Linked DNA regions of Homo sapiens: regions 1 and 3 are each reported to be linked to region 2. Evidence: microRNA targets listed by miRTarBase, many of them from high-throughput screens and not tested one by one. Region 2 holds a microRNA gene; each other region holds the end of a gene's coding sequence.

Region 1 (3,350 bases), not on the chromosome of region 2:
GTGTGCAAGTCTCATTTGGGTGTGTTTATGCTGCGTGTTGTATGCCTGTTTTAGTCATAAAGTAGGCCTGATATTTAAAACCTTGTCTTTAAGTTCAAGGCTGCAGTGAGCCGATTGCACCACTGCACTCCAGCCTGGGCAATAGAGTAAGACCCTGTCTAAAAAAAAAAAAAAAAAATTTCACAGGTGTGTTCTCAGGGAAAAAGAAAAGTTAACACATAAATAAACCCTTTGTCCTCAGATGTGTGTGGAGGGGTGGGGGATCCTCTGAGGGGGGTCCCCAAGAGACTGCGGGAGGGCAGGCTGAGAACGTGGAGGAAAAGGAGCCAGATGTTGGCTCTCAACTCGTGTTGATCACTGGGTGGCTTTTTAAAATCCCAATGCCCAGTGCCCCATCACCAGTTAAATTATTGTTGCTGGGGGTACACCCAGAGTTCAAGCTCTCCAGGTGGTTGTGCATGGTGGCTCACGCCTATAATCCTAGTACCTTGGGAGGCTGAGGCGGGAGGATCACTTGAGGACAGAAGTTCAAGACCAGCCTTGGCAACATAGTGAGAACCCCATCTCTACTAAAAGCTTAAAAATGCGCCTGTGGTTCCAGCTACTTGGGAGGCTGAGGCAGGAGAATCACTTGTCACTTGAGCCTGGGAGGTCAAGGCTGCAGTGAGCCAGGATCACACCACTCCACTCCAGCCTGGGTGACAGAGCAAGACCCTGTTTGAGGGAAAAAAAAAAAAACCCAGGTGACCCTAACGTGTGCCCAGGGTTGGAAACTACTAGGCTAAATAATGGGGGCAAATAGCCAAATGTCATTGCCCGGCTGACTGGATATGGGCCAGTGGGTCCCTTAGACACTGAGAGAAGTGAACTGAAACAAAGGGGTTTGGTTCCATCATTTGTGAGGTATTTGTCCTCAGAGGGTACAAGGATTCCTACCACCCTCCAGGGCCCAGAAAGGAGGGCAGCCAAGAGAGGCAGGGAGGGGGCTGGGAAAGGGGCCTTGGAGGTCATCTTGGCCCTCAGAAGGGGAGCCTGTGCTAGTGTTTCCTTGCTCAGAATCAGAAATCTCTACCGTAGAACACTTGATATATTTTATTTGTTCATTTCCTTTGATTTTGCTTAAATTTCAGTAAAGTTCTTTTTTTCCTCTTTCTTTTCTTTTTTCTTTTGAGAGAGGGTCTTGCTGTCTCACCCAGACTGGAGTGCAGTGGCCTGAGCATGGCTCACTGCAGCCTCAACCTCCCGGGCTCAAGCCATCCTCCTGCCTCAGCCTCCTGAATAGCTGGGATTTACAGGTGTGCACCACCTTGCCTGGCCTTTTTTTTTTCCTGTAGACACAGGGTCTCACTATGTTGCCCAGGCTGGCTTCAAACTCTGGCCTTCAAGCGATCCTCCTGCCTCAGCCTCCCAAAGCACTGGGGTTAAAGGTGTGAGCCACCGTGCCTGGCCAAAGTTCTTTTTTTTTTTTTTTTTTTTTCAGACGAAGTCTATCACCCAGGCTGGAGCTCGGCTCACTGCAACCTTTGCCTCCGGGGTTCAAGCGATTCTCCTGCCTCAGCCTCCTAAGTATCTGAGATTACAGGCATCTGCCAACATGCCCGGCTAGTTTTTTGTATTTTTAGTAGAGATGGGGTTTTGCCATGTTGGCCAGGCTGGTCTCGAACTCCCTGACCTCAAGTGATCCACCTGTGTCAGCCTACCAAAGTGTTGGGATTACAGGTGTGAGCCACTGTGCCCGGCCACTTAGCAAAAAAAAAAAAAAAAAAAAAAAAAAATCCTACCATGATTCAGCGAGGCTGAGGGGAAATGAAGAAAAGGTTTGGTCTGGCATGGGCTGAAGTTGTGAAAAGGCAGAGGCAGGAGAGCCAGGGGGAGTGGTCTGCGCCAGGGAGGCTCAAGGAGAGAGCAGAGGCAGCACCTGCAGCTCCTGTCCCACTTGAAGTTCCTCTGGGGCCGCCCACTGCCCAACCCTTGGAGGGCTCAGAGCTGTGTTTCATTAGGGATGGGTCCCCTCAGAGTCACATCCCGGGCCAGCAGGCCAACTGGAGGGAGCCCCAGGGGCCGTGCTGGACAGCAGACTGGCCCGCACTGTCAGTGCACTGGGAAAGGCATGGGTGCCTGTGGGTAACACGAGGGGAGCAGCAGCTCCTGGACAGTAGTCCCCATCACTTTCTCCCCACAGAGACGTGTAGGCAGGGAGGCAAGGTGAGTAACACCTCTTTACTCAGCAACGTGCTCCTCCCTCGGGGGACCTTCCCCAGTGCCCCTCCATGCTCGAAGGGCCTGGAAGGATCAGAATGCAGGCCTTTCCCAAGGACGGCACAGAACGTGATGAGGAGATGCCACTGGGGGTGCAGAAAGCTCCCCATCCCCCTGGGAAGAGGCGTCAGCGTGCCCTCAGGGTAGTCAGGTCCTGAGCTTTGGACTCCTCGCTTGGTTAAAGGCACTGTCCCTTGTGCAATCTAGAGGAATGCTCCTCAAAGCATCTCTCCTGGGGACCAGGAGAGCCGCCCCTGCTCCCAATGCAACAAGATCCCTGATCGCCAGCCTCTTGCCTCCCTCAGAGGGAGACAAGTCCGCACTGGAGGGAGCACGGCTGCCTAGCTCCCTGTCACCTCCCCCACCTCTCTATCTGTTCACTGGGACAACAGAGGATCCCTGAAGCCGCTGGAGGAGCTGGCTTTGCAGGTCTTCCTCCATCACCTTCCACCAAGAGAAGTTCTCACCCCGAACTTTTGGGGGTTCATCCTGGATCCCTGGGCTCCGAAAAGCCACGGTCACCAGCACATTCAAACAGATGCCATCACTGTGATCTCGGCCCAGGTGCTGCAGTCCAAGCAACCCCTTGATCTCCACCACCAAGTGGTGCAGGGTCAGACACTCCTGCAGCAGCCGCAGGACGGCCATCTTCATGCCACCCCTCTGCTCCATAGGGTCGAGGCCACAGGCAGTGACAGGCAAGTGAGGCATCCCCACTGTGCCCACTAACACCCACACTGTCTGGGCGCTGGTAAAGGTAGCCACGAGCCGCTGGCAGACCAGATCACAGGGTAGCTCTTGGGGCAGAATGAGAGGGTGCCTGGCTTGCTGGCGATACTGGGCGGCTAGTTCAACCAGGTGCAGGATGTCATGGGCTCGCAGCGGAGTGGGCAGGGAGGTCCGTGGGTACCAGGCAGCCTGCAGGGACTCCGCATCGGCCTCCTTGGAAGTCTTGAGAATTCCACCTGGGGGAGATGTGGGGGATGGGGCAGGGAGGGTCTGTGTGGAGAGAAGTGCAGCTCTGGCAGAGTCAACAGACATCCCTGACCCAGGAGAGAGGCCCCCAGCCCAAAGGCTGGAATCTGCCCATG
Region 2 (3,000 bases):
AATTCTCATGTACCTGTTCTCCTTATAAGGACAACAGGCAGCCTCTGGCTTCCTGTAAGGAGAACAGGCCTCTGTCCCTTGATTCATGAAAACGAAATGTGTTGTTAGAGGGAAATTAGCTCAAATGACTTAGAGCACTTTCACAAGGCATAACATTTGTACGTCATTGATTGTCAGGGGTGATGGTTCCACATTTTAGATAACAACAGGTGACACAGGTGGGCAGAGCATGTCATATCTCAGTACCATGAAATCAGACCTCCTCTTTTGAACAGACATCTCCCCTTATCACAGTGACTTCTCTCTCTTTTGCCTGCAGCCCAGCGATCTGCTCACGAGCTGCCCATGGTTGAAAGACAAGACACAGACAGCTGCCTGGTCTATGGCGGCCAGCAAATGATCCTCACGGGGCAGAACTTTACATCCGAGTCCAAAGTTGTGTTTACTGAGAAGACCACAGGTCAGTGGATTTTTGAGCTCTTTCTCTGTCCCCCAGAATCATGCAAAAGTGACCATCTCTTTATTATATACAACTTTGGTTTTGGGGGGTAGATCCCACCGTGCAGTTTTATACCCTGCTCTTTTTACTCAGCGTGTCTTCAGGGATTGTGATGGCCATACCATTCGCCATTGCATGAATGTGCCATTCTACATTTTAACTCTTCTAGGTCATTTTGACAGAAAATGAGATTATCTCCCACCCTCAATCCTTTTTTTAAAATTACTTTTTTACATAAGGAAGGAAATTTTTAAAACTTTTTGCTATTATCAAGAAGGGAGGCCAAACAGCACAGTGATAAAGCATGCATACTCTGGCCCTGGATATCTTGGGTTCAAATTCTGGGTTTGTTATCTGCTTGCTTGGTGATCCGAGGCATATTACCTATCCGTTAAAATTTCTTACCCCATAAAGTTGTCATGGAGGTTAAATGAGCTAATACATGTCACGTAATTATAATAGTGCCAAGTACAGCATAAGCCAATTAATATTGGCTACTTGTATTTTTATTATAAGTAGTTCTGCAGTGAATCAGCTTATACTTCTAGGATTAATTAATCTTGTACATGAATCTATATGTATATCTTTTTAGTTTATTTAGGGTTTATTCCCAGCAGTGGAATTTTGGATAGTCATTCTGAGGACTTTAAATACATATTGCTAAATTACCTTCCAGAAATCTACAAATTGAAGTTGCCATCATGTCAGTCATAGTTTCACCCCCATCCCAGAAATGCCATTTTTTTAAATTAAAAAGGAATCATTGTGGAATTGGTACTTCTTTCTACTTTGCATTTCCTTGCTCTGAGACGCATAATGTTTTGTTTATTCACCACGTGTATTCTTCCTTTGGTGTACTATCGGTGTCTTTTTCAGTGGGTATGTGGTAGAAAAGATGCTGATCTGAAGTAGGAAAATATCAGATTAAGCAATAATTAATGAAACAAATGTGTTGTTAGAAGGAAATTAGCTCAAATAACTTGGGACACTTATTTTGGATACTAGAACCAATTTTCCTTTTCCTTAACAGACATGATTTCAGTAGGTTACTTCAAAGGGGTGTTGATGTTTGTCTATTTGTTTATTGTCCTTAGAACAATCCGAGAATATAACAGGTGAGTTGTCCAGTTGGAGGGATTGTGCACTGTACAAGGGCACCTCCTCTGAGGGCTGCCATTCAAATTGGATACATCACCAGTTTACACGTTAGTAAGACAACTTCTGGCAGGGGGAAGCAGACTGTCTTAGGCAAAGAGTGCTTCTTCCAGTCTCGCACAAATCATCCTTCTGGGATGGGCTGGACATGTGACCGGGGTGTGACAACTGCATTCTCACAGTTGGAAGCATAACAAGAGGCAGAATTTATTTTAAAAGGGTTTGATGACGCCTTTGCGAAAAATAACAAAAAAGGTATTAAGTAAGGCTGTGGCAGTGGGGAAGGGAGATGCAGGGATGGGTCGGGAGTGGTTTAGAAGGCAGATGTCACTGAGGTTTGATGGGACGTAGTGGTGTAGAGAGGCATTAAGAACGCAGGTGGCAGGGCCAGCCACCAGGAGGGCTGCGTGCCACCCGGGCAGCTCTGCTGCTCACTGGCAGTGTCACCTGCGGAAACTCTCCATCATCTATCCCCTGAAAAGCAGGGACAGTGACAGTGCCTACCCACAAAGGTAAGGTCTGAATGAATTAGAGCAAGTGGGCTTAGCACCGGAAGTGCTCGGTAAGGGGCAGGGGCTGCTGCTGTTTTTCTGGAGCTGCTGTGGATGGGGAAGGGGAAGAGGTTGAGTGTCGAGATTGTTTTGTTCACGTGGTGCACTTGGCCAGCTGAGATTTAGCACACAGGAGAGGAGGTCTGTGTGGGGATGAGGTTGGGCAGGGAGGACGGGTTTCATTTTGGAAGTGGAAGCGTTGAGTCTCATGTACCCATGGGCCTTCTTGGATGAACCATGATCTCACCTCTGTGGAAAGGCAAGAGATTGGTGGGTATGTGGCCACGTGGTCTAGACTAAGAAACCAGATCCTGGCTGCAGATGTTGTCATGGGAGCTGTCAGCAATGAGATCTGAGGTGAAGTCCTGGGAATTGGCTCCGACCTCCCAGGATGGCCTCCAGTGGGAGAAGGGGAGGCTTAGAGAACTGAGAGCCACATCCCTTAAAGGTGGCAGAGGAGGAGCTGTCACAGCAGGAGGAGGAGAACCAGGGGAGTCTGGTGCCCTGGAGACCAGGGGAAGGAGACTTGGGAAGGGTCAGCAGAGGCAGTGCTATGAAGGTCACAGAGCCCGAGGTCAGCCTGAGAGTCCAGTGATTGGGGGGCCTCTGGTGATTTGAATCACACGTACCCAGGTGGCAGTGAGTTGAGGAGTGAGCTGAGGAGTAGCGTTGCTTGAGGGATCAGAGATGATGAAGGTAAAGTCTGCTCTAGGCAAGAAGACTCTGCACCAGCAGTCCCCAACCTTTTTGGCACCAGGGACCAGTTGCATGGAAGACAGTTCTTTTCAAGGGTTG
Region 3 (3,350 bases), not on the chromosome of region 2:
CGCGCGCCGACCGCTGGGCCCCCGTGGCGCCGCTGCCCCGGGGCGCCTTCGCCGTGGCGCATGAGGCCACCACCTGCCACGGCGAGATCTACGTGTCCGGGGGCTCCCTCTTCTATCGCCTGCTCAAGTATGACCCGCGGCGCGACGAGTGGCAGGAGTGCCCGTGCAGCAGCAGCCGCGAGCGCTCGGCCGACATGGTGGCTCTCGACGGCTTCATCTACCGCTTCGATCTGAGCGGCAGCCGCGGCGAGGCGCAGGCGGCGGGGCCGAGCGGGGTCAGCGTGTCCCGATACCACTGCCTGGCCAAGCAGTGGAGCCCGTGCGTCGCGCCCCTGCGCCTCCCCGGCGGCCCCACGGGCCTGCAGCCCTTCCGCTGCGCCGCCCTGGACGGCGCCATCTACTGCGTGAGCCGCGCGGGCACCTGGCGCTTCCAGCCTGCCCGGGAAGGCGAGGCCGGCGGCGACGCAGGCCAGGGCGGCGGCTTCGAGGCGCTGGGCGCCCCCTTGGACGTCCGGGGTGTGCTCATCCCGTTCGCTCTCAGCCTGCCTGAGAAGCCGCCCCGAGGGGAGCAGGGCGCCCCGTAGGCCGGCGGGGTCGGCGGGCGTCTCCCTCGGCAGGGGTTTGCGGGGCCCAGGTCCCTTTGGGCCCGCGGAGGAGGACGTGGTGGGGAGTCGGGGCCGCTGGCCACGCTGGTGGTTTGGACACTTCGAAGGAGCCCCGAGGACGCTCTCAGGGCCGCTTTCGCTTTGCTTTCCTTTTGCTTGTCTTTGCTTCTGGGGGTGGATGCCTTGAGACCCAGGAGGTGTGCGGATGGGTCCCTTGACAGACAGGACACAGAGAAGGCTGTGGGATCCAAAGGGTCAGCCTCAGGGTACAGTGGGGGTTCCTGAGGCAGCCTGCAGCCGGCCCCGGGGTGTCCCGAACCCCGCAGAGCACCGAGGCTGTGCGCAGGAGCCTGGGACCCTCAAGTAGGTCGCCGCGAACTATCGGGGGAAGCACGCAGAGAGGGTCACGCCTTTTATTTTTGGCTTGAGATTTAAAATTATAACTGATAAGTAAAGCTCTTTCTGATTTAGTTGAAAATTTCGTACCATGTGCTCGCTTTGGTTGGCTCAACTCCAAAAAGAGTAATTTAATAAGCATTAAAGGTAAAATCTTTGATTACCAGTAAGGTTTCTTGTTCAATATGCATTGGAAGTATTTCCTTCCCCACACCATTGCTACTCAAACTCACATGCCTAGAGCAGCTCCGTCTCACTGTTGGACCGAGGGGGCTTTCATATTTTCAGTTGAAAGGATGTTAACTGATGTAGCGATGATTTACCATTATTTAAATTTTAAGTCTTCAGTGGCTAAATGTGACCAAACAGCACATCATAAGTAGGAAAAACTTACCAGGGTGCTTGTCTATCTAAAAAGCAATCTTTGATAGTCCACTCTGTATGCCCAGCCGCTTTCATAATCTGGAACGAGATAAAATATTCCTAAAAAGCGGGGAAAATCATTTTGCTTTGACAGTTCTATAAAAAAAAGTGTAGGCACATTTTAAACCCACTGTATATGATGTTTTCAATGTGGATCGTGTAGTTCTGATGAGGGAGATTAATTTTTACAATCAGTATTCTAAGTGTGGCCGAGTGACAGTGGGCATAGATTTATAACAAGGAAGTGACGTGCTTATCACCATAGATTTGCAAGTAAACTGCATGTATTTAATTGTATTGAATTGAGTTCCAAAATACCCTAATAGAATTAACACGAGGCTCACTGCATTGACAGGGTATGAGGATTAAAAACAAATCAGTTGGGTCGTTTCTCATTTAACATTTTACTTTTCAAGTGTGTATACAGAGGACTTACTATTATGACTTTGAGGATGAGATCCATGCTCACAAATAGAGGCGAACATTTGAACTCCGAATCCAACCCATTTTCTTACTGTAAGAGGAAAAGTTACTGGAACGTAACTAGTTGAAATCCTGCCTACTTTAATATTATTTGTTTGTTAATCCAGTAATGGGAACTGCCATCTCTGTAGAAATCAGTGGGTAATTGAAAAATAGGTTATGCTTTTTAAAGAGTCTGTGGTTATGAGAGGTCTCAGTTAAGTGTGTTTAGAAGTGATCAGCTTGAACCTTATGCATGACTCGGGGGCTGGAATTTATGATCTGGGTTACGGTATGTTCTGGGGACGTGTCTGCTTGCCCATGGTTACTCATGAACTGAGGGGATAGCTTGGCAACTTGGTTAATCATCTTGGGAAAGAAAAACAGACTTCATATCGCCTGACTTGATTGGCCTTTTATAGGAGTATACTGGAGAAATGGTTGTAGAAACAGTATTTACAGCAAAAGGAAACAAATAATGTTCATTTTAAGCAATGTACCATTCACACTGTCCTGCCTTTTCCTCTAGAATTTTATTAATGGTAGAAATTTTTATATGAAATGGGACCAGGACCAGGCTAATATTTTCAGTCCTTAAATATCAAACTCATATGCTGTTATCACTGTGATTTTACTTGTGAAATCATTCCTGTAATGTTTATTGTTTGAAAATGAAATATTGAAATTAGGCTTCCAGAGTAACACTGTCCCCGGAAAAGGATATGAGAAGTGGTGGATGTTGGATGGGGGTGGTTGCACAGTCCTGTGCGGTTCCCATGGCTTTCCAGCGTTTCATTTAGTGAAGGAATGCTCACACTAGATGTAGCACAGCTTCCTGTGGGGCCCGGCAGCAAAGCCCCAGGTGCTCCCTGTCACCTCACAACAAAATGCACTAAGAAACGTAAAGAATAAGAGGAATTAATACCCACCATTAAAGGATGTCCGGCCAACCTATTGTGGAAATTTATAGAATAGTATACACCACAGTTCTGAATAGTGATATCACATAAAAATACATACTAGAGGACCTGCCACGCCATGAGCAGTGTTTTTGCTTTTTGGGGGCCAGTCCCTGGGGTGTGGAGCCGCTAGGGTTTGCACCCATGAAACAGAGAAAAGCCACACCCTCCAAGGTGTGGCTTTCATTTTGGGACTGCTGCAGGGAGGGCAGAGGCATTGCTGAGACTGCCTGGCAACGGCTGATGCCCCAGGTAGGACCTTTTCCAATTCAAAGTGGTGTTCTAAGTCTGCGTCCAACACTGTGTAGGAAAAAGGTTGGTGCAAAAATATTCCTGGTCATCCACCCATTAAAATAGTTAGATGAGGCTATTGCCTTGATGACAGCTGTCCACACTCCTCATGAAATTAACCCGTATGCCGGGGCATTTCCAAATGTCTGACTCGTGAAATTAACCCATACGCAGGGGCCTTTCCAAATGTCTGAAAAGGCAGTGGTGTCTTTTG

The links. Region 2 holds the annotated microRNA hsa-miR-3194-5p (GGCCAGCCACCAGGAGGGCUG, at 2,040-2,060, shown strand). A microRNA usually pairs through its seed, bases 2 to 8, with sites in the 3' UTR of a target mRNA and lowers its output. Matches are read on the target gene's strand: a 7mer-m8 pairs with bases 2 to 8, a 7mer-A1 pairs with bases 2 to 7 and ends in A, and an 8mer does both.
Region 1: the mRNA of NUDT18 is a reported target of hsa-miR-3194-5p. Seed matches in the 3' UTR shown: 7mer-m8 at 2,543-2,549.
Region 3: the mRNA of KBTBD11 is a reported target of hsa-miR-3194-5p. The part of its 3' UTR that is shown has no 7-base or 8-base seed match.

Annotation. Positions count from the first base shown.
Region 1 is chr8:22,104,672-22,108,021 of GRCh38, forward strand. It overlaps NUDT18 (nudix hydrolase 18), which reads right to left. Exons shown (of 3, transcript NM_024815.4): 3 at 2,207-3,224. The coding sequence ends at 2,629. It overlaps FHIP2B (FHF complex subunit HOOK interacting protein 2B), which reads left to right. Exons shown (of 17, transcript NM_022749.7): 17 at 1-240. Among named protein-coding and RNA genes, the nearest start is that of NUDT18, 3.1 kb to the right of the region's middle. RefSeq lists enhancers at 2,548-2,692, 3,089-3,350 and a cis regulatory region at 2,620.
Region 2 is chr20:51,452,008-51,455,007 of GRCh38, reverse strand. MIR3194 (microRNA 3194) reads left to right here and starts at 2,031; the gene lies at 2,031-2,103. NFATC2 (nuclear factor of activated T cells 2) reads left to right here. Exons shown (of 11, transcript NM_012340.5): 6 at 320-460.
Region 3 is chr8:2,002,481-2,005,830 of GRCh38, forward strand. It overlaps KBTBD11 (kelch repeat and BTB domain containing 11), which reads left to right. Exons shown (of 2, transcript NM_014867.3): 2 at 1-3,350. The coding sequence ends at 584. Among named protein-coding and RNA genes, the nearest start is that of KBTBD11, 30 kb to the left of the region's middle.